Homo sapiens: one gene and its partners. The protein of the gene in region 4 interacts with the protein of the main gene of each other region in a biochemical or structural test. Each region holds a gene or a part of one and is shown on either strand. Other genes may lie near its edges.

The links. The genes of interacting proteins can lie anywhere in the genome.
Region 1: the proteins of FRMPD1 (region 4) and VANGL1 interact in a test that uses a peptide from one of them, tested with the Homo sapiens proteins (one large-scale study listed by IntAct).
Region 2: the proteins of FRMPD1 (region 4) and FMNL3 interact in a test that uses a peptide from one of them, tested with the Homo sapiens proteins (one large-scale study listed by IntAct).
Region 3: the proteins of FRMPD1 (region 4) and LDB3 interact in a test that uses a peptide from one of them, tested with the Homo sapiens proteins (one large-scale study listed by IntAct).

What each region holds. Positions count from the first base shown.
Region 1 is NC_000001.11:115,658,059-115,662,924, reverse strand, and holds part of VANGL1 (vang-like protein 1), read right to left. Parts: intron 3,285-4,866; coding exon 3,152-3,284; intron 1-3,151.
Region 2 is NC_000012.12:49,696,951-49,701,816, forward strand, and holds part of FMNL3 (formin-like protein 3), read right to left. Parts: intron 1-4,866. UniProt on the Homo sapiens protein: Plays a role in the regulation of cell morphology and cytoskeletal organization. Required in the control of cell shape and migration. Required for developmental angiogenesis.
Region 3 is NC_000010.11:86,730,100-86,734,965, reverse strand, and holds part of LDB3 (LIM domain-binding protein 3), read right to left. Parts: intron 2,080-4,866; coding exon 1,990-2,079; 3' UTR 1-1,989. UniProt on the Homo sapiens protein: May function as an adapter in striated muscle to couple protein kinase C-mediated signaling via its LIM domains to the cytoskeleton.
Region 4 is NC_000009.12:37,733,451-37,738,316, reverse strand, and holds part of FRMPD1 (FERM and PDZ domain-containing protein 1), read right to left. Parts: intron 4,845-4,866; coding exon 4,718-4,844; intron 4,588-4,717; coding exon 4,492-4,587; intron 2,766-4,491; coding exon 2,583-2,765; intron 1,222-2,582; coding exon 1,074-1,221; intron 1-1,073. UniProt on the Homo sapiens protein: Stabilizes membrane-bound GPSM1, and thereby promotes its interaction with GNAI1.

The sequences.
Region 1 (4,866 bases), on a different chromosome or scaffold from region 4:
ATCCCAGCTACTCAGGAGGCTGAGGCAGGAGAATCGCTTGAACCCGGGAGTCGGAGGTTGCAGTGAGCTGAGATCGTGCCACTGTACTCCAGCCTGGGCTACAGAGTGAGACTCCGTCTCAAAAAAAAAAAAAAAAAATCTCCTTATGATGTTCACAAGATCCACTTAACAAGCATCAGTGTCAAGCACTCTTTAACAATATTTCTCATGGACCAAGCTAAGCAAATCCAGGAATCCGTGTATGGCCAGATTGGCTTAAAAATTCTTTCTAAAACATGTTTTCACGAGGAACTAAACATCAAGGGCATAGAAACAACCAGGATTATTAAAATGTTATCTTTTACTTTCTAGCTTCCTCTCTTTTTAAACTTCTAGGCCGTTGCTAGTTAAAGCAATTAGTCTATTCACTTAGCAAAACCCAGTTGATAGAATTTTAAAGGATTTTGTTGTTTAAAAACAACTGGCAACAATAATGAAGCAATAAGAGCAAGGCGCTGAAAAGACACAGGAGGCCAAAGAGGTTTCTGCCTCTGAAATTTGTATGTATCCTTTCACTCGGAAAGAAAACAGTCAGATGCAGTGGCAAAGGGGGTGAAATTAGGACACCAACTTAGAAAAAGCTAGTTTCAGTTAGTAGCTAAATCAGCAAGACAGACATCGCTCATCATCAAATAACTCCGAATCTAGTAATGACCAAAAAAACCATGATTTATGAAATGTATGGGCTATGGTAAGAAGCGGTGGTGGTGAAGGTCTCAATCCCATAAACTAATAATCCTTCAACTTGCAAAGTCAGAAGTATCACCTACAGTGAGAGAAATTCCTATTTCAGACGATGGCCAGAAGCAGCCAGGACTCTCCAACACTGCTGGTGGAAGTGGACCGTGGTACAGTGCCTCTGGAAAACCACTCTGGCGGTTTCATATAAATCTAAATATACACTTAGCTATATGGCCCAGCAATTCCACTCTCAGGTTTTATCCAAAAATTAATAAAAATATACATCCAGCCAGGCACGGTGGCTCACGCCTGTAATCCTAGCACTTTGGGAGGCCAAGGCAGGCAAATCACCTGAGGTCAGGAGTTCGAGACCAGCCTGGCCAACATGGTGAAAGCCCATCTCTACTGAAAATACAAAAATTAGCTGGGCGTGGTGGTGCGTGCCTGTAATCCCGGCTATTCGGGAGGCTGAGGCAGGAGAATCGCTTGAACCCGGGAGGTAGAGGCTGCAGTGAGGTGATATCATGCCGCTGCACTCCAGCCTGGGCGACAGAACAAGACTCTGCCTCAAAAAACAAACAAACAACAACAAAAAAAACCCAAATGTCCATCCACTAGGAGAATGGATAACAAATTGTGGTAGACTGATACAATGGAATACTACTCAGCAAAAATAAAAAGAATAAGCTGTTGAAACATACCAAAACATGGATAAATCTCAAAATCATTATGCTAAGCAGGGCGGGTGGGTGGGGGCAGGAGATGGACCATATGATTCTAATTATACTAAATTCAAAAACAGGCAAAATTGATCTACAGTGATAGAAATCAACACAGTGGTTGCCTTGGAGAGGTGAGGGTGGGGCAGAGATTGACTAGAAAGGGCATGAGAGAATTTCCTGGGGTGCACATGTATGCCTAAAACATGTAGATACACAAAGGATCCTGTTAAGCTTCAGGTTCTTAGAAGAAAAAGCACCTAAGATGCTTTCATCAAAACCCCTAGATTTTCAATAAAGAAATTGAGGCCTACAAAGGCTGTGACTGCTCAAGGTAACAGAGCTACTAAAAAATACAGCCTCCAAACACCCATCTCAATGCTTTTCACACCAGATCATCCTGGGGCAACACCAAGAGCTTCTCAAAGTGTTCTCAGCTACGAGGTGCAGAGGAGATGCAGAGAAAGAAGAGCCTTTGCTGTAGGCCACTGGCACCTCTGAACCCACATCCAGGAGGAAACTGACCCCTTCAAGTACTCCAGGGTGATCCAATCCTAAGACTGGCCCCATCCGACCATCAGCCATCCCAGAGCCAAGGCAGGCAGCACTAAAGGCATTTGCTCATTGCTCAATGAATCCCACGTTCAACCCACAATTGTAGTTTTGTGTCCCAAGAACACCTTGTGTACTCTGAGGAATTCCAGTTTCAGTCCACCTATTTGATTATAAATGCTTACCTGTGTGTATGCACAGGTATGTACAGATGTATGCTTATCTATAGTCCTATATCTATCTTTACAGCTGTGTATCATACACCACTTTGTTTATGAGGGGCAAGGCTGGACATGTGTATATATACTTCAGGATGTGCAGAGGGTATGCAGACATGTTTCTGTGTATAGCTCAGATGTTTATTTAAATCAGGTGGGCTGCCAGACAGTTGGAACCTGGAGAAGAACCCACTCAATGGTTCAAAAAAATTAATAAAGTATCAGTATTTCAAAAATACTGTAAAGTTAGGATTCCACATAAAATCCTGATTTGCAGCTTTTCTCAAACAATGAATCCCTGCATTCCTGAGCAACAGTAGGTGTCTGGAGCTGCGGAGCTGCTGTTTCCTTTACAGAGGAAATGCATTCTCCAGTTAGCCATAGGCTCCTTCACACCACACTACAGCACTGACACTGAGGCACTGCACAGATTGCTGTTAACCCAAAGCTAGGTTAATATATTTTTGCCCCCTCTTTTCGACCCAGGGCCTCCTTAATTAACTTACGTTTCTCTACCAGGCATCTGAGCGTGCGGCCTCTCAATTCCTGCATAGCTCTAGTAGTAATGGTCAGTCTGGGCTGCCCCATGTTTTTTAAACTTCTTAGGTTTTCTGAGTTTCCTTCTCCCCCTTATACTGTTCCATTTTGAAATGAGTCGTGGGAGACTTCAGCTTTTCCCTTCCCAACCCTGTCGTCAACCTTGCTGGCTACTTTTCCACACCATGTAAAGCAGGCCAACCAATCATACTTCAGAAGAATCCCCACGCTACCAAAGGGCAGGACAGGCTGTCCTTAGACCAACAAGAGACCATGGGACATAGATAAACTAATTAGCATGCTAGAAAAATAAAGACAAAAATCCAAGAGAACCTAAGGAAAACATTTACAGACAGGAGTCTTGGCCAAGTGGCAGTGTGCTTACAGACCACCTTTGATCCTTACCTGAACTTCCTCTGTCCGAGTAGAATCATTTCCCAACAGGGGCTCTCCAGTGGGAGGTTGAATGGTGACAGACTTTTCTGACCCTCTGCCGTCTTTATTCCGGGGTGACTTGTGTCTCTCTCTAGTTCTTTCCCTGAAAAACAACAATGAGCTAGCACATTTATGCCATGTTAATTAACTCTCTGGGTTTATCAAAATGTAAGTATCATTTTGAATTTAGGGAAATTCTACATACACACACACACACACACACACACACACACACACAGAGCATCAAAACCCACCCATCTTCACCACACTTCAAGGGGTACACTGATCTTTACTCCCTACTAAATATTTTCTTTCTGCCATCCCAAGACCCAAAACAAAGACTGTCACTCTTCCTCTATCATCAGTGATATTTTCTCAAAGCCTAAAATTGTAATTTTAGGATTTTTGTAGCTAGTTACACTTTATTGTAATAATTAGTGATTTGATTTGGTTATAATTTGCCTTAACCAGTTTTCTAGGGCTTTTAAAATTGGGACAACACTGTAGAATAAGCTTTTTTCTACAAAAAAATATCTATTTTTTTGTAGAATATCCAAAAAAATCTGGGACACATTGTCACCCTTCACCTTTGGACAACAGAAGAAAGGAAATTCAAAGTCAGTACAAAGAATTGTTTACTTCTCATTCTTACAGGTTCAAAACTAAGTCATTCCCATAGGTTCTAGTTGAACTTGAAGACACCCATAGAAACAAACAAGCTAGGAAAAAAGGCCAAAGACACCAAGAGGGGTGGAGGGTGTGTGGGTGGATGTGTGTGTGTTTGTGTGTGTGTGTGTGTGTACATGGGGAGGGTTTCAGACCTCCTGAGGAAAGCAGGCTGCTGCATCATTTTACCCCACAGGAACTTCCTGGGTGGTCTTCCAGCGTGATTGTAAGAACCCTGCCTGGGGGTCACTCATGAAATTCCAAAATGAACCAATCACTGGCCAAGCCAAGGTCACAACCTGGGCAATAACCACTTATGGGAACTGGCACTCCCCCTCCAGCTGCCAACAGGAAACCCAGAATCCCCCACCTAAGGAGTCCCTCAAGGGTCAGTGAGTTCCCTCAGCCTCCTGCCCCCACAGCCACCTTGACATCAGCCCTCCTTCCTACAACCACTTGCCGTCATTCCCAAGGTCTCCCAGGCAGGACAGAAGCAGATTTTGGAGACAAACAGATCTTGGATCTGCCCTACCAGATGTGTGATCTTGCACAAGTTATTCAATCTCTGAAAACCTTGGTTTCTTTATGTATGAAATGGTGACAATGACAACACCACATAATGTAAGTAGTGCTCAGTACAAGGATGTGGAGTAAGTGCTAATGCACAGTGGCTATGATTGCTATTACTATTAGCCAGTGTCAAAGAATGGTGTCTTGACTTAGTGATGCAGAGTGTGTATAACCTTGGAGAAAGAGATGTAAATAGAACTATTAACACACAACATATCTTCTGTTAACCTACTACTTAGCTTAAGAAAACGTAGATTTCTTGTCAAACTTCGACCTTATCATTACCTCCCTGGGATAAGCATTGGCTGATTCCTTCATAGAGCCAGGAGGCTCCCATGGCCAAGGGAATCTTTCAGTGACAACAATTCTATTCCTACAGCATAACTTATAATCACACTCTATTGCTGATACAGTTCAGATAGTTGTCCCTACCCAAATCTCATGCTCAA
Region 2 (4,866 bases), on a different chromosome or scaffold from region 4:
AGCCAGGGCTTCCTCAGCAAATCCAAAAATGGTCTTTAAAACTCCCAAAATACTACATGTGTTCATACATAGATGGGAGGGGGAGAGGGGAAATAGGGACCACAGGTTTAACTGGATTTCCAAAGGAATCTGTTACCCAAAAGATTGAGAACTACTGTTGACAGATCTCTCAAACATATTCCCAACTTATAAAAACTTTTACTCTGGCTTGAGTAACTGACCAGGGGGTGAGTGTAGTATGTACATCCCAAACTGCCACTTGATGAGTTTTAGGGTAGAGCCCACAGTACAGAGGAATCAGGTATTAAACCAACAGGCAGAGGTAATAAAAAGAGGTCCACCTCTTTCCTAAAGGTGTGCTAGGAAATGGGAAAACCAAGAAAGCACCACACACCATGGCTCTGTCTTCCCTTTTACTGCTCTTGAAGCTTCATCCTCAATTGGTACACAGGACAAAGGAGGTACAGATAAGTGGAAGGCAAATCTCAGTAGGGGTGCCAATCACATTTTGGGCAGGATCCTTCTTCATTGTGTGGGACTCACCAAAACATGACCCAAACACAGAGGGATGTTTAACAGCCTTGGCTCTCAGCTAGAAAGCCTAGCACTCCCAGTCAGTATGATAATCAAAACATCCTCAAGTGCTTCCAAAAACTCCCTCCTGGGACAATACCTCCCTCAGTTGAAAGCTACTTTAAATTATGGAATTCTGAGACGAGATAAAGTGGGTAATGTATATACAATAAATATTTATTTTTAGCACCTTTATAGGTTACAAAGTGTTTTCACTATGTTGTCTCCTGTAAGCATCCTCAAAAACCTGTAGGATAGGTATTATCCTCACACGTGTCATAAAGGATGAAATTGACTCAGAAAAGTTACAGGATTTGCCTAAAGTCGTGCAGCTGAAAAAAAAAAAGACTATAAAGCTGGATCAGAACCTAAGTCTTCTGATTCCAAAACCAATGGTCTACTGCTTCCTCCCAGAACAAAATTTTTTTTAAGATTTCATGGGAAACACTAGGAGGATCTATTGACTGGCTCCCCAGCTTCTGTGTAAAAACAAGAACAGAAACTGCTCTAAGCTATAGGTAGTTTTTAAAACCAAATATCCATCTCCTAAAGTACCCAACGACCAGGCTCATGTCAACTTTCTTAGAGAGGCACCGTACAATTAAAAGAGGATTATGATATTCTCCATTCTGAATTTGAGTAGAAATGAGCAAACAGGGGAGAAACAAAGTACGTATCTTCCCTGTTGGTGTGTATAAGGGACCCAGAGGTAAGATCACCAGCCCCAACTCCAGTTTTGGCCATAACTCTGGGTGAGGGGGGATAAGGTGGTAAAAGAGATGGACGTGGGGGATAAGGATAAGAATTAAACCATCACTAATATACAAGAGCCTAAACTTGTCCTCTACTGGCAAAATCTGCCATGTAAATAATTCTGCTAGCCCCTCGTGGTTCTGGACATTATTGAGAACACCTTTCAAGGACCTAAAAATACTTTATAAACTAAGAAGAGTATGCATAATAGTAAAGCTGCAGGAGGGGAGATACTGCTCCCCACCCCCAAAAAAAAAAAACACCCTATCCATGTCCTCCCCTACCCAACACACAAACCCCAACCCACAACTTTGTTGTGAGGTGATGGAAGACAGAAAGCGTAAGAGAACCTGGAAAGAGGAAGATTCTAAAAGAGGAAAAGAGAAGTAGAGAGGAAAGTGGGAGGCAAAGACAACAAGAGTATCTCCAGGACACAGAGGGAGCTTGACATTTCTACACCTTTCCTGGGGGACTGACTCACTCTCCATGTGAAAGGAAAACAAGATACAAAGACATAACTTTGCCCAGAGAGGCAAAAGAGAGAGACTGGAAATGGAATGCAGGAATTCTAGCTGCCCAGCTCAGTTCTATTCTGGAATCCACTTCACTTCTCTATGAATGACAATCTTAAATCCCTGAAGTTCTCACCTGCTGCTATTCAGAAGTACCCAGCAAGAAGCAGGAGAGGAGGAGCCTGTGTGCTGACAGGACCGTCCCCTCCTCTATCTTCAAAGAAAAAGGTCCTCCCCTTCTTTAAAGTCATTTCCGAACCGCGATGAACCCCTAGCCTTTCCCTGGCTCTGCTATTGCTCAGCTCAGACGTGGGAGAAATGTTTCCCCAGAATGGAAGAGACTGGTCTGGAGACGTGGGAGAAATGTTTCCCCAGAATGGAAGTGACTGGTCTGGCAGACCAGATGACACGCTGACTTCAGGCAGCCAACACTGCTGTCCCATGGGCTTACTACAGTCACTTCTGGGGCACATACTTTGGTGTTGACCACAGAACCAGGACCCCGGCTCTGCCCAGCCTCCCCAAGCAACCTCAGGGGCAGGGGAGGATCTGTGGTCTCATTTCCTCTCCACTTTGGCTTCTTTTTTCACTTCACTGAAGATTAGTTATTTCCACCAAGACCAGTTCCTGTTCTCACCAGCTGTAGCAGTTGTTTCCCCACAGACAGAATTAGGAAGCACTGGTGTGGCTGCCACCTGGACTGTCCCAGCTGCAGAACACAGACCCAATGAGTCCTGAGAAAGGGCTTTTTCATCCCAGATAAAGTAGCAGGAAGAAAGTAACGGGCAGGAAGCAATTCCAAGAACTCCACAGTGGATACAATGGCATCCATTTTATTATTTTAACCTTACATAACAGTTACATATGCTTTTATACGTGAAAAATATTTTATAATGAAAAACTATACGAAATGTATACATTTATTACATAGACATATGTATATAATAAATCCCCAACAGAGAGCAAAGAACGCAAATAAAAGATGGCCAAAACACTTAAAATGAAATGTTCAGAGAACTGCAAAGTAAAACAAGATACCATGTCTAATTAATCAAACTGGCAAAGGCTTTAAAAACATTAATTCACTCAGTAACGGTTAGCTTACAGAGAAAGGTAGACACATATACTATCAGTGGAAAAGGTAACTGATAAAACTTTTTCAGAAGATATATGTCTCAAACGCCTTTAAAAACCATATACCCTTTGGCCCAATAATTCCACTTCTAGCAATTTATCCTAAGGAAATAATCAGAGATGGACACAAATATTTATGCACAGGATGTTCAACACAGTGTTATTTGTAACAGCAAAAAAAAGATTTTAGGCTGGGCGTGGTGCTCACGCCTGTAATCCCAGCACTTTGGGAGGCCGAGGCAGGTGGATCACGAGGTCAGGAGATTGAGACCATCCTGGCTAACATGGTGAAACCCCATCTCTACTAAAAACACAAAAAATTAGCCAGGCGTGGTGGCGGGCGCCTGTAGTCCCAGCTACTCGGGAAGCTAAGGCAGAAGAATGGTGTGAACCCGGGAGGCAGAGCTTGTAGTGAGCCGAGATCGAGCCACTGCACTCCAGCCTGGGCGACAGAGTGAGAATCCGTCTCAAAAAAAAAAAAAAAAAAAGAGATTTTAAAAGGGTAAGATACGCTGGACGCAGTGGCTCATGCCTATAATCCCAAAACTTTGGGAGGCCGAGGCAGGTGGGTCGCGTGAGGTCAGGAGTTTGAGATCAGCCTGGCCAACGTGGCAAAAACCCATCTCTAATGAAACTACAAAAATTAGCCAGGCATGGTGGCATGCACCTGTAATCCCAGTTACTCAGGAGGTTGAGGCAGAAGAATTGCTTGAACCCAGGAAGCAGAGGTTACAGTGAGCCGAGATCGCACCATTGCACTCCAACCTGGGCGACACAGCAAGACTCCACCTCAAAAAAAAAAAAAAAAAAAAAGGCAACATAAGGCAGTGATAAAATATTATAGAGTACTATGCAGTAATGAAATCATGATACTGGGCCGGGCGCAGTGGCTCACACCTGTAATCCCAGCACTTTGGGAGGCCGAGGTGGGTAGATCTAAGGTCAGAAGTTTGAGACCAGCCTGGCCAACATGGTGAAACCCCATCTCTACTAAAAATACAAAAAAATTAGCCAGGCGTGGTGGTGGGCGTCTGTAATCCCAGCTACTTGGGAGGCTGAGGCAGGAGAATTGCTTGAACCCAGGAGATGGAGGTTGCAGTGAGCCGAGATCGGGCCATTGCACTCCAGCCCGGGCAACAGAGTGAGACTCCATCTCAAAAAAAAAAAAAAAAAGAAATAATGATACTGAATAATATATAAGCAAATGAGAAAATGCTTAAAATAGTAAATGAACAAATCAGTTTACAAAACAATATACACAGTATGATCCCAATTGTTAAAAAATATATATACACGTACATCAAAGTGTTAATAGTAGATGGTGAGATTATAGGTTTTATTATCTTCTTTACACTTTTCAGTAAGTTCCAAATTTACCTAATAAATATTTATTATTTTCATAATCAGGAGAAAAGAAGCTATTCTCAATCCTCTTCCATCCTTTTAAAAACCTTCTCATACATTATTCCCTCTTTTAAAAACCATTTGGAAACAAAAACAGTTATATCCTACAATCTAGCAAGTTCTATTTTGAGTTTCTATCCCAAGGAAAACTCTAAATATTGAAAATACTTTGTACACCAAGATGTTCATCACAGCATTGTTTATGATGACAAACAGAAGCAAAAAACCTAAATATCTAAGAAAAGGTGTATGGGTAAGCAAACAAAGGTACCTTCACTTGATGGACCATCGTACAAGCATTTAAATGTTTACAGGCCAGGCTTGGTGGCTCTTGCCTGTAATCCCAGCACTTTGGGAGGCCGAGGTGGGCAGATCACTTGAGGCCAGGGGTTCGAGACCAGCCTGGCCAACACATGGTGAAACCCCGTCTCTACTAAAAACACAAAAATTAGCCAGGCGTGGTGGCAGGCGCCTGTCATCCCAGCTATTT
Region 3 (4,866 bases), on a different chromosome or scaffold from region 4:
AATAGATAGTTTTTGGAGAAAATGACTTAGAGCCTGTCAGTACAGTCAGCAACCTCCTTGTCCCTGCATATTTGAACTTTCCAAAAATAACAGAATGCTCCAAGGTACTTGTCTGCAGCTCCTGACAAATCTCCAGGCAGTCCCAGCAGATTTTACTCTGCCTGCTGCTTTGTATTCACCTTCTCACAGATCCAAAGGTAGGAAGGGCCCTGTGGCAGGAGCACATCCATGTCCCTTCCTGATGCTCCCTGGGGGAGACTGGTGGCTTCGTGCTTGGAAAAAATAGGGGCTTCCTGCAGCTAGGGACATAGCTAGCTGCTTCCTTCTCCCTCATGGAGAAGAGACAGGTAAGATGGCAATCCCCTGGAAGTCTCAGTCCTTAGAAGAAAAGAGTTCTAATACATTCCCATAAAACATTTCAAACATGCAAAGAGAAAAATCCAAAACAGGAGTGAGGACAGAATAGAGTGAGTTGGAAGAGAGCCTAAATATCGTGCTCAAGTGAGAAACATCCACGCAAGTGCCTGCTTCAATGCCATGTTTTCAATGAGCATATTAACAGGGCTTCCTAAAAAGGGAAGCGACTACACTGTTTCCAACCACAGAATCTAAGCTGCCTTCTTTATCACCAAACAGCTTTAAGATGCTTACCTAACTCAAACTATCACTAGTATAAAGTAGTTTGAAGGCCCCTCTACTTCAATAAATACTTAAATAATAGCTAGATCAACTCAGCTCATACATTTTCAAAATATTGGCCAAAACAGCAAATGCATATATATCAGTGCATCTGTCCCTTCCAGCAGTTAACACAATTGTACAAACTCAGTGTGCTGCATTTAAAGGAACATTTGAAAAGGATGATGCAGACCTGAAGGTGGGAGGTCCTGCCTCCTCGTGTGTTCTTACTGAGGGTGGCAGAAAGTAAGTTTCCTCTTCCCCACCCAGAGTTTGGGCATGTGAGCCTATTCTGCCATCCTGTTTCAGACACTGTCTCTCTGTCTCTCTTCTTTTCCACAGGCCACCAAGCCTATTTGAGATGGAGGGTACTGGGGGAGACGTCATAAGTGAGCAGTCACAAGTTGGGGTGAAATTCATGCACACGACTGGACACTCATGCTAACGAACCCTTAAAGCTAAACAAAGGCCAAAGACAACCCAAAGCCTTTAAAAAAATCTCTCACACACCACAGAGCAAAACTGGAAAAACCCAACTCTACTTTCCCATCACAATTCAAAAAGGAGCTAAGCCTTCTGGGGATGTTGGATGTTTCAGACTGAGAGAGGGTGGCTGACAGGGCCATCTTTTCTCAGCTGTCTGCAACCTGAGCCAGAGCCCTTCCTGGAGCCCTGGCAATTGCCCAGTGGCTCCCAGAAGACATCTCTTTGGACGTCCGGGCTCCCAAGAAGGTTTTAAGTTTGTTCAAGGTCTGAAGTCTGATGCGCAGAGGTAGCTCCATGACGCTAGTAATGGAATAACACTTCCTTTTTTGGTGAGGAAAGCCCAATGGGTCTTAGCTAACAAGCTCTCAGCTATGACTCTAAAAATACCCTGCAGCGAGTGCTGTTTGGCACTTCAATTTGTTTGCCAGGGGAGCGCTTAAGAACTCCGCAGAATGCTTCAGATTCTCCACAGCTGCTCTAAGCTCTGTCCTCCTCTGGTGACCAAAGCAAGTGTATCGCTTTGGGAAAGCTGCTTGTTGCTTTTCACTTTTGAGTTCTTGGAATTCTGCTCTAAATGTCTGAAGTACAATTCCAGTCTTGGATTAATAACTAGCTTGGTTTTGAGTCTTCATTTGGCTCCTAGTCTGAACTATGCAAATGCACGATCTGTGTACAGAAGAAAAAACCTAAAATTATACTTCCAAAGGGCTCAGTCGCTTCCTCTCTCTCCCCATTCCCCTCAGAAGAAACATCAGCCTCCCGAATCCTTTGTTGCCAGCAGCAGGAGCAGCTCCGGGCCTCGTCAGCACAGGCGGCCTTGGCCGCCTACAAGTTGATGGTGTGTGCGTGCTTCTTGCACAGGGGTCTGTCCTTCTTGGAGTAGAACGGCTGCCCCTCCAGATTCACATGGCAGACCTGGAGCAGAGAACAGACCTGCGTGAGACCCACGTGGCACAGGGCATGAGCAGATTTCAATCACTTTTTTAAGAAAACGCCCTGGCCAGGCGTGGTGGCTCAGTCCTGTAATCCCAGCACTTTGGAAGGCCAAGGCAGGCAGATCACTTGAGGTCAGGAGTCCAAGACCAGCCTGGCCAACATGGCGAAACTCCATCTCTACTAAAAATACAAAAATTAGCCAGGGGCATGTTGCCATGTGCCTGTAATCCCAGCTACTCGGGAGGTTGAGGCAGAAGAATCTCTTGAACCCGGGAGACAGAGGTTGCAGTGAGCTGTGATTGTGCCACTGCACTCCAGCCTGGGCAACATAGCAAGACTGTCTAAAGCAAACAAACAAACAAACAAACAGCCTTGCCCCATGCATTCTAGAGAAAAGGCAACAGCCTATTTCTCCCACTATGAATTCTTAATGACGGAAGCAGAGTACATGAGTTGGACTATATAAAAACTAAGATTCCTGAAGAACAGAATAAAATCAAATGAAATTAATTAAATTTAATGGAATAGAGAAAATATACACTATGAAGCTGACCAATTCATGCTATCTAAAATAGCATGAATAGAGTCAATACAAGTTCACAAGTCAATATACCACAGAGAGGATTCACGTCTAAAGAAAATCATTAGTAAACTAACAAACACATCAGAGAAGATTGTACTCACTAATAATTAAAGAAAAAGCAAATTAAAACTCCCCTGACTCCAGGCGCAGTAGCTGATGCCTGTAATCCCTACACTTTGGAAGGCCAAGGCAGGAGGATCGTTTGAGGCCAGGTGTTTGAGACCAGCCTGGGCAACATAGTGAGCCTCTGTCTCTACCAAAAAAAAAAAAAAAGAAAAAGAAAGAAAGAAAAGAAAATTAGTTAAAAAAATTACAAGAAAAACTGCCCTGAGATACCACTAGACACATATTAATCTAGCAAGACAAATAAAACAAAAAAACCTCAATGGCCTGTCACCTTTAACCTAATATGCCTGTAGCCAAAAAGCTTAAAAAAAAAAAAAGTATTCAATCAAAAATCAGCAATGCCAAAAAGGAACAAGGCCTACTCGTGCACTGCTAGAGACATGTGAGTGAGCTCAGTGTTCCATAGGGAATCTGGCCATGTTGAACAAGAACCATTGAGATGTGACTACCCTGTAACCCAGTAATGCCACGCTAGAGAATTTTATCCTGCAGAAGCAACTCTGCAGAACAACAAAACAACCTGTGCTCAACTAGAAACTGAAAACTAGTAAAATTTCTCTCAATAGGAAGATGATTCAGTAAATTTTCATGGTGTATTTTTCCAATGGAATGCCACCATTTAAAAAGAGAGATGGGCCAGGCATGGTGGCTCACGCCTGCAATCCCAGCATTTTGGAAGGCCGAGGCAGGAGGACCACGAGATCAGGAGTTTGAGATCAGCCTGACCAACATGGTGAAACCTTGTCTCTACTAAAAATACAAAAATTAGCCGGGTGTGGTGGTGCGCACTGGTAATCCCAGCTACTCAGGAGGCTGAGGCAGGAGAATCACTTGAACCCGGAAGACGGAGGTTTCAGTGAGCTGAGATCATGCCACTGTACCCAAGCCTGGGCGACAGAGCGAGATTCCGTCTCAAAAAAAAAAAAAAAAAGGTAGATATGGAAAAGTATGCAGAGAAATATACAAAAAAACAAAAGAGATGAAATTCTTTTTTTTTTTTTTGAGATGGAGTCTCACTCTGTCACCCAGGCTGGAGTGCAGTGGCGCGATCTCAGCTCACTGCAACCTCTGCCTCCCGGGTTCAAGCAATTCTCCTGCCTCAGCCTCCCTAGTAGCTGGGATTACAGGCGCCCACCACCATACTCAGCTAATTTTTTTTGTAGTTTAGTAGAGACAGGGTTTCACCATGTTGGCCAGGCTGGTTTCAAACTCCTGACCCCAAGCAATCCACCTGCTTTGGCCTCCCAAAGTGCTGGGATTACAGGCGTGAGCCACCACGCCCAGCCCAAGAGATGAAATTCTATATCCCCATGATGACAACATATAGTCTGAGGCTGGAGGCATCCCAGAAAGAAGAGAACTAATTAATATTTGTGGGGACTACCATGGACCAAGCAGGATGCCAGACACTCTATATACAGCAGCTCATTTAATTCTCATGAAAACCTTATAAGGTAGGTAAGCCTTTCTCCCACTTCACAGCTGAAAAAACTGGGGCTCAGAGGGCCCATACGTCTTCCTTAAGTCACAGACCTAGTAAGTTGTAGGCTGGGAATCTCTGTCCATGTCTGTAAGACTCCAGTTCTATGCTAATTTTTCCCCTACCCCATAGAAGAAAGGGACTGTGTTTACTTGAAATTGATCTGGGTTCATGGGTTTGTACAGATGTAGCCCTCTGAGTTTGCTGGACTACTAGTATGTAAGCTGGGCCCTGGGTTGGCAATATGCCAGTAGGTCAGAGTCTGCCAGGAAATCACATTGGCTGGCATGGGTCCCAGCTTAGGAGAGGGCAGTGAAGATCCCTGCTGGGGGGCAGAATTGGGAGCCATCTCCAGGACACTGACATCAAGAGGAGTGCACGTGGAGTCCCCACATACAGGTATCCCCCATGGAGACAGAGAAATCACCCCCTTGAGTTGAGCTTGGGGCAATATGCATGTATTCAGTCCAAGAGAGTTGGAGAGGAAAAGGGCACCACGCTAGCCCCATGTGCAAGGCTCTGATGGTCCAGTTGGGGACGTTATACCTAGGATCACACAGGGCTTCCAATTGGGTTC
Region 4 (4,866 bases):
CTCATCACTTTCTAACTGTTTTACTTATTGTATTAGTACCTATTCTCTTGAGCTGATTTCTACTTTATCCATATAGAGGAAACACTCTACAGTGGTGTGCTATTGATCACCTCTTCCCATCTCCACATTCATCATGGTATCATCATATCGTGGTAGCCTGAAATTACCCATCGTGAGAATGTTGACACCATGGAATTGGGCAATTCCTTCAAACTGTTTTTGTCCCTCTGCAGGGAGTTGTTAAGCATTTATCAGCACAGCCCTAGGTTCATGCTGCATCAATGGTGCTGAGGCAAAAGCCTGGCAGAAACTGGGAGCTGGCCTAGGAAACTGTCTTACCTGCCTTGCAGAGAAGTTCTTTTATACTTCAAGAGATTGCAAAAGAGTGCATAGGTAAGGAAGAGAAGCCAGGTCATCTACTTCCTGAACAAATAAGTGACATCTCTTTTTGATGAGAAATAATGATAATCTTTTTTTTTTTTTTTTTTTTTTTAAGATGGAGTTTCGCTCTTGTTGCCCAGGCTGGAGTGCAATGGCACGATCTCGGCTCACTGCAACCTCCACTTCCTGGGTTCAAGCGATTCTCTTGCCTCAGCCTCCCAAGTAGCTGGGATTACAAGCATGTGCCACCATGCTCGGCTAATTTTGTATTTTTAGTAGAGATGAGGTTTCACCATGTTGGCCAGGCTGGTCTCAAACTCCTGGCCTCAGGTGATCCACCTGCCTCAGCTTCACAAAGTGCTGGGATTACAGGCGTGAGCCACAATGCCTGGCTGAGAAATAATGATAAAATGCAGTGGATCTGAGAGACAATCTTAGGAAATACAGCAGGGAACTAGAGCTCTTCCACAGCATTCCTTGGTTTCAGGAAAATTTCAGATACAAAGAAAGCTTCTTTGTTTAGTATTTATGAAAGATCAATTGTTTACTAGGAAATAAACAGAGAAATAGCTCTCATCCACTTGAGCTGAAGCCTCGGCTCAATTCAATTCACCACCTCCCTTTAGGCTGCCCTTACCTACAAGGCCAGTGAAAGGGGCCTGTCCTTATTGGGGCAAGACTCAGTGCCTCACCTTCTTCTGCAGATACCCGGTGCGCTTGTTGTTTGTTTCCAGGCCAGAGGAAAATGGAGGTAACTGGGTCAACCAACAGCCTGTAGTACCCAGCAATCAGGCAGGCTAGGTCTTTTGCACTGTTGGATTCCAGCAGCAAAGTCAGAACCTTTGAAAGCAAATAGAAATCTCATGTTTATCAAGGACCAAGGGACAGTCTGAAGACTGACAACAAAGCCATGTGGGACCAACGAGAGATTCCAGGTAAATCCGGCCATGGTCCACAGGTAGGTCTCCTGGTGCCCCATATCCTCACTTGCAAGGCTTTAAATGAGGACATGCATGTACTCGTACAGACACCATCGCGTGTGTGTGTGCGCACACATACACACACACACACACACACTCTCACGCACTCACACACTCACTCACACACAGTGGGTCCTTCCCACCCAATCTATACAGTGTCTTCTGACTCCTCATCCTCTACCCCAGCGCCATATCCAAACTGCCCCATCCCACCCTGTTCATTCCTGCAGAGGGACTTGCAAGACTGAACTTAAAAAAGAAAAAGGAGCAAGAACATGTGGAGAATGAGGGAGAGGGTGATAAGAATAAAGCACCAATATTGAGTATGTTGGGATTAAATCAAAGGAGGGCAGAATAAAAGTAAGACCTTTGAGAGAGGCTCAGGAGGTACCCTGCACTAGTTACCTTTTTTTTTTTTTTTTTTGAGACAGAGTTTTGCTCTTGTCACCAGGCTGGAGTGCAATGGTGCAATCTTTTGCTCACTGCAACCTCTGCCTCCTGGGTTTAAGTGATTCTCCTGCCTCAGCCTCCCAAGTAGCTGGGATTACAAGCGTGAGCCACCACACCGGGCCCACTATTTACCCATTTTAATGCCCACCACTCAAAGCTTTTGAGCAGCAATCTGGTCCCATTCATGTGATAAAATCCTCTGGTGGGCCGGGCGCGGTGGCTCACGCCTGTAATCCCAGCACTTTGGGAGGCCAAGGCGGGTGGATCACGAGGTCAGGAGATCGAGACCATCCTGGCTAACACAGTGAAACCCCATCTCTACGAAAAAATACAAAACATTAGCCGGGCATGGTGGTGGGCGCCTGTAGTCCCAGCTACTTGGGAGGCTGAGGCAGAAGAATGGTGTGAACCCACGAGGCGGAGCTTGCAGTGAGCCAAGATCGTGTCACTGCCCTCCAGCCTGGGCAACAGAGTGAGACTCTGTCTCAAAAAAAAAAAAAAATCCTCTGGTGTTCTCCATCTACGTTTCTAAATCCAACAGGAAAGCACATGGTCCATCTCAGTTTGTGCAAAAAAACCTTTTAGGACCTCTTCAGGAAAATTTACCATTTACCACTTTCCGTTTGATAGAACAGGATGGACAATTCGTCCTCTTAAGCAGATATTGGACATTAGACTTTATTATTATTTAAAATTCATATAAACTAGCCTGGCCCCTATTTGGCCCCAAATTCCAGCAGTTGAATTCAGAATCTCTCCCCATTGTGTTACCTTGACGTCCTGAAGATACACTTTGACGACGCTCACTTTCTCAGACTCTTCCGTTAGCTCTACACGGCTGATGTTTGCAAACTCTGCCAATGTGGACATGATGTTGAGTTTGCTATTGATAACCTGGCTAATCCCATACTTGGCTCCAACTAGAAGGGCAATGTAGGATTCTCTATCCTGTAACTGCAGAGGGTGGAAGGGGAATTAGTCTCCATTCGCAAGCGAGTGAAAATACATTTCACATGTAAGCAATAATACCTCTCGCTGCAAACTCCTTGATTCCTACTTTGGATCCTAACCACCACTCCTCCAGACTATTGCCTAACTTGGACCCCATCAACAGCTAAATCAAAGTGTAAATTTATTTCCCCAAAACTCTTTCCAATATAGCCCTGAGCCACAGCCATAAACACATCTGTATTTTCACACCTATGTACCTATCTTCCTGCTCTTTGAATCCCTTCCCTGCCATCATTTCCCATTTAAATCCTGATCCTTCTTTAAAAGCTTACATCAAAACCTACTGCCTATGGAAAGCATCTGCCTGATCTCAGCCTCCTTAAGCCAGAAATCTCCCTTTCCTCTCTGTTGTTCTGTACCACTTCCTCTTACTTCTCTACTAGCACTGAACACTTATGACTTCTTATTTTAATTATTTGTATTAAGTCTCATTTTCCACATTAAGTTTCTTGACAACAGAGTCTGCATTTATCTCTATTTGTAACCCGCAGTGCCCAGCAAGCACCCTGAACCTGTTCCATGTAGCTGGTTGCTTCTCCCACTACCAGTTCTTTCCTTAGACAAGAAAGGTAAAGGGAGACTGGGGACTGGAACTGGACAGCTGGGAGAGGGTAGAATTAGCCCTTAGAAAAATTGGGAAGTTTTTCTTGTACCTTCAAAACTTTCCTTTCTGTGATCTAGTCTCTTTCCCACCTTTTGGGTCTTCTACTTAAACGAAGAATCCATCTGTGTTTCCCCTTCCCCTAACTATCTGATGCTCTTCCTTTCTTTCAAAACACTGATTCTCTTCTTCCATCTACATTGTTAGGTTAGCAGTCTGATTACATTGGCCCATCACTGTAAATGACTGAGATGCATACCAAATCTTTTGAAAGGATTTTGGTTAATATTTTTTTAAAACCCCACTCTAATTGTAAATTGGTTTTGTGCTGCAGAGTCCTGGGGCTGACAGTGCTGGAGGAAAGCTCTCTGAAACCATACCCCCGAGACACTGACTGCTGAAAGGCACAAGCTCTAGGCCTAGGCTCCAAAAAGAAGCAGGCAGGAGAATGGGAAGAGAGCAGAGGGCTTTTCTGCTTCTCGTTTCTCTTCTCAGGCCCACCCCTCATTCCTCCCTTCTGAACAATCAGAGACTCAGCTTGGCAGTCAAACACTCTTATTTTTCTTTCATGATTTCCAATTTTCCTCTTCACCTTCATATACCCAAAGCTCCAGAGTGAACTGCTTACCATCCCCTTCTGACCCAGAATGCCTTTTCCTCTCTACTGAAGTCTGGCCAAATTCAGGCTTCCTCTTGCCTCTTTCCTTAACCCCTTCTCCTCCCTATACTTACCCTGAAGCAAGCAGTGCTACCTTCTGTCTCCAAACTCCACAGCAATAGGCCTGAACCTGTCTCATGGCTTTGCTTCATTTTGTTGGGTAGCTTGTTTCATCCTTCAAGGACGGAAATCACATCTTATTCAGCCCTGCTTCCCCTAGCATCTATCACAGGGGTAGCACCAAGCAAACGCGTGGTAAATATTTTCCAGTGGTGTACTATTTAGTTTACCAGACAAATTCTAGTACATGACAGAGTCCTCAGGAATTTTAGGCTAAAAGACACATTGATTTTCAGAGGATCTCTAAGGTCCCTTACGTGAGTAGGATTTCACAGTTCTCTAATACATACCATTAAAGTAGCATTAAAGATTCTTCCACCATATGTCTTGAGTTCTCCGAGGATCTGTAGATAATTTAAACGTAGCTGGGCAGCAGAAATAAGTTGCTTAATAGAGAAAAAAAAACACTTGAAGTCAGAGTTATTCATTGGTCTAAAATCCAGGCAGTGTTGAAAATGTTTTTCCTAAGGTTTCACAGACGACAGCTGAGTGGGTCGGCAGAGGCACCTTCATTACCTTCTGTCGGGGTTCCAGCAAATTCTGGTTCCTCTTCATGTGGAAGCTAATGGCTTTCTTGATGTCTTTGCCTTTCATGTTTCGGAGTAAAGTTGGAGATATAAAGTTCTCTATTCCCCAGTCTTTCCTGCCATGAGACATTGGAGACA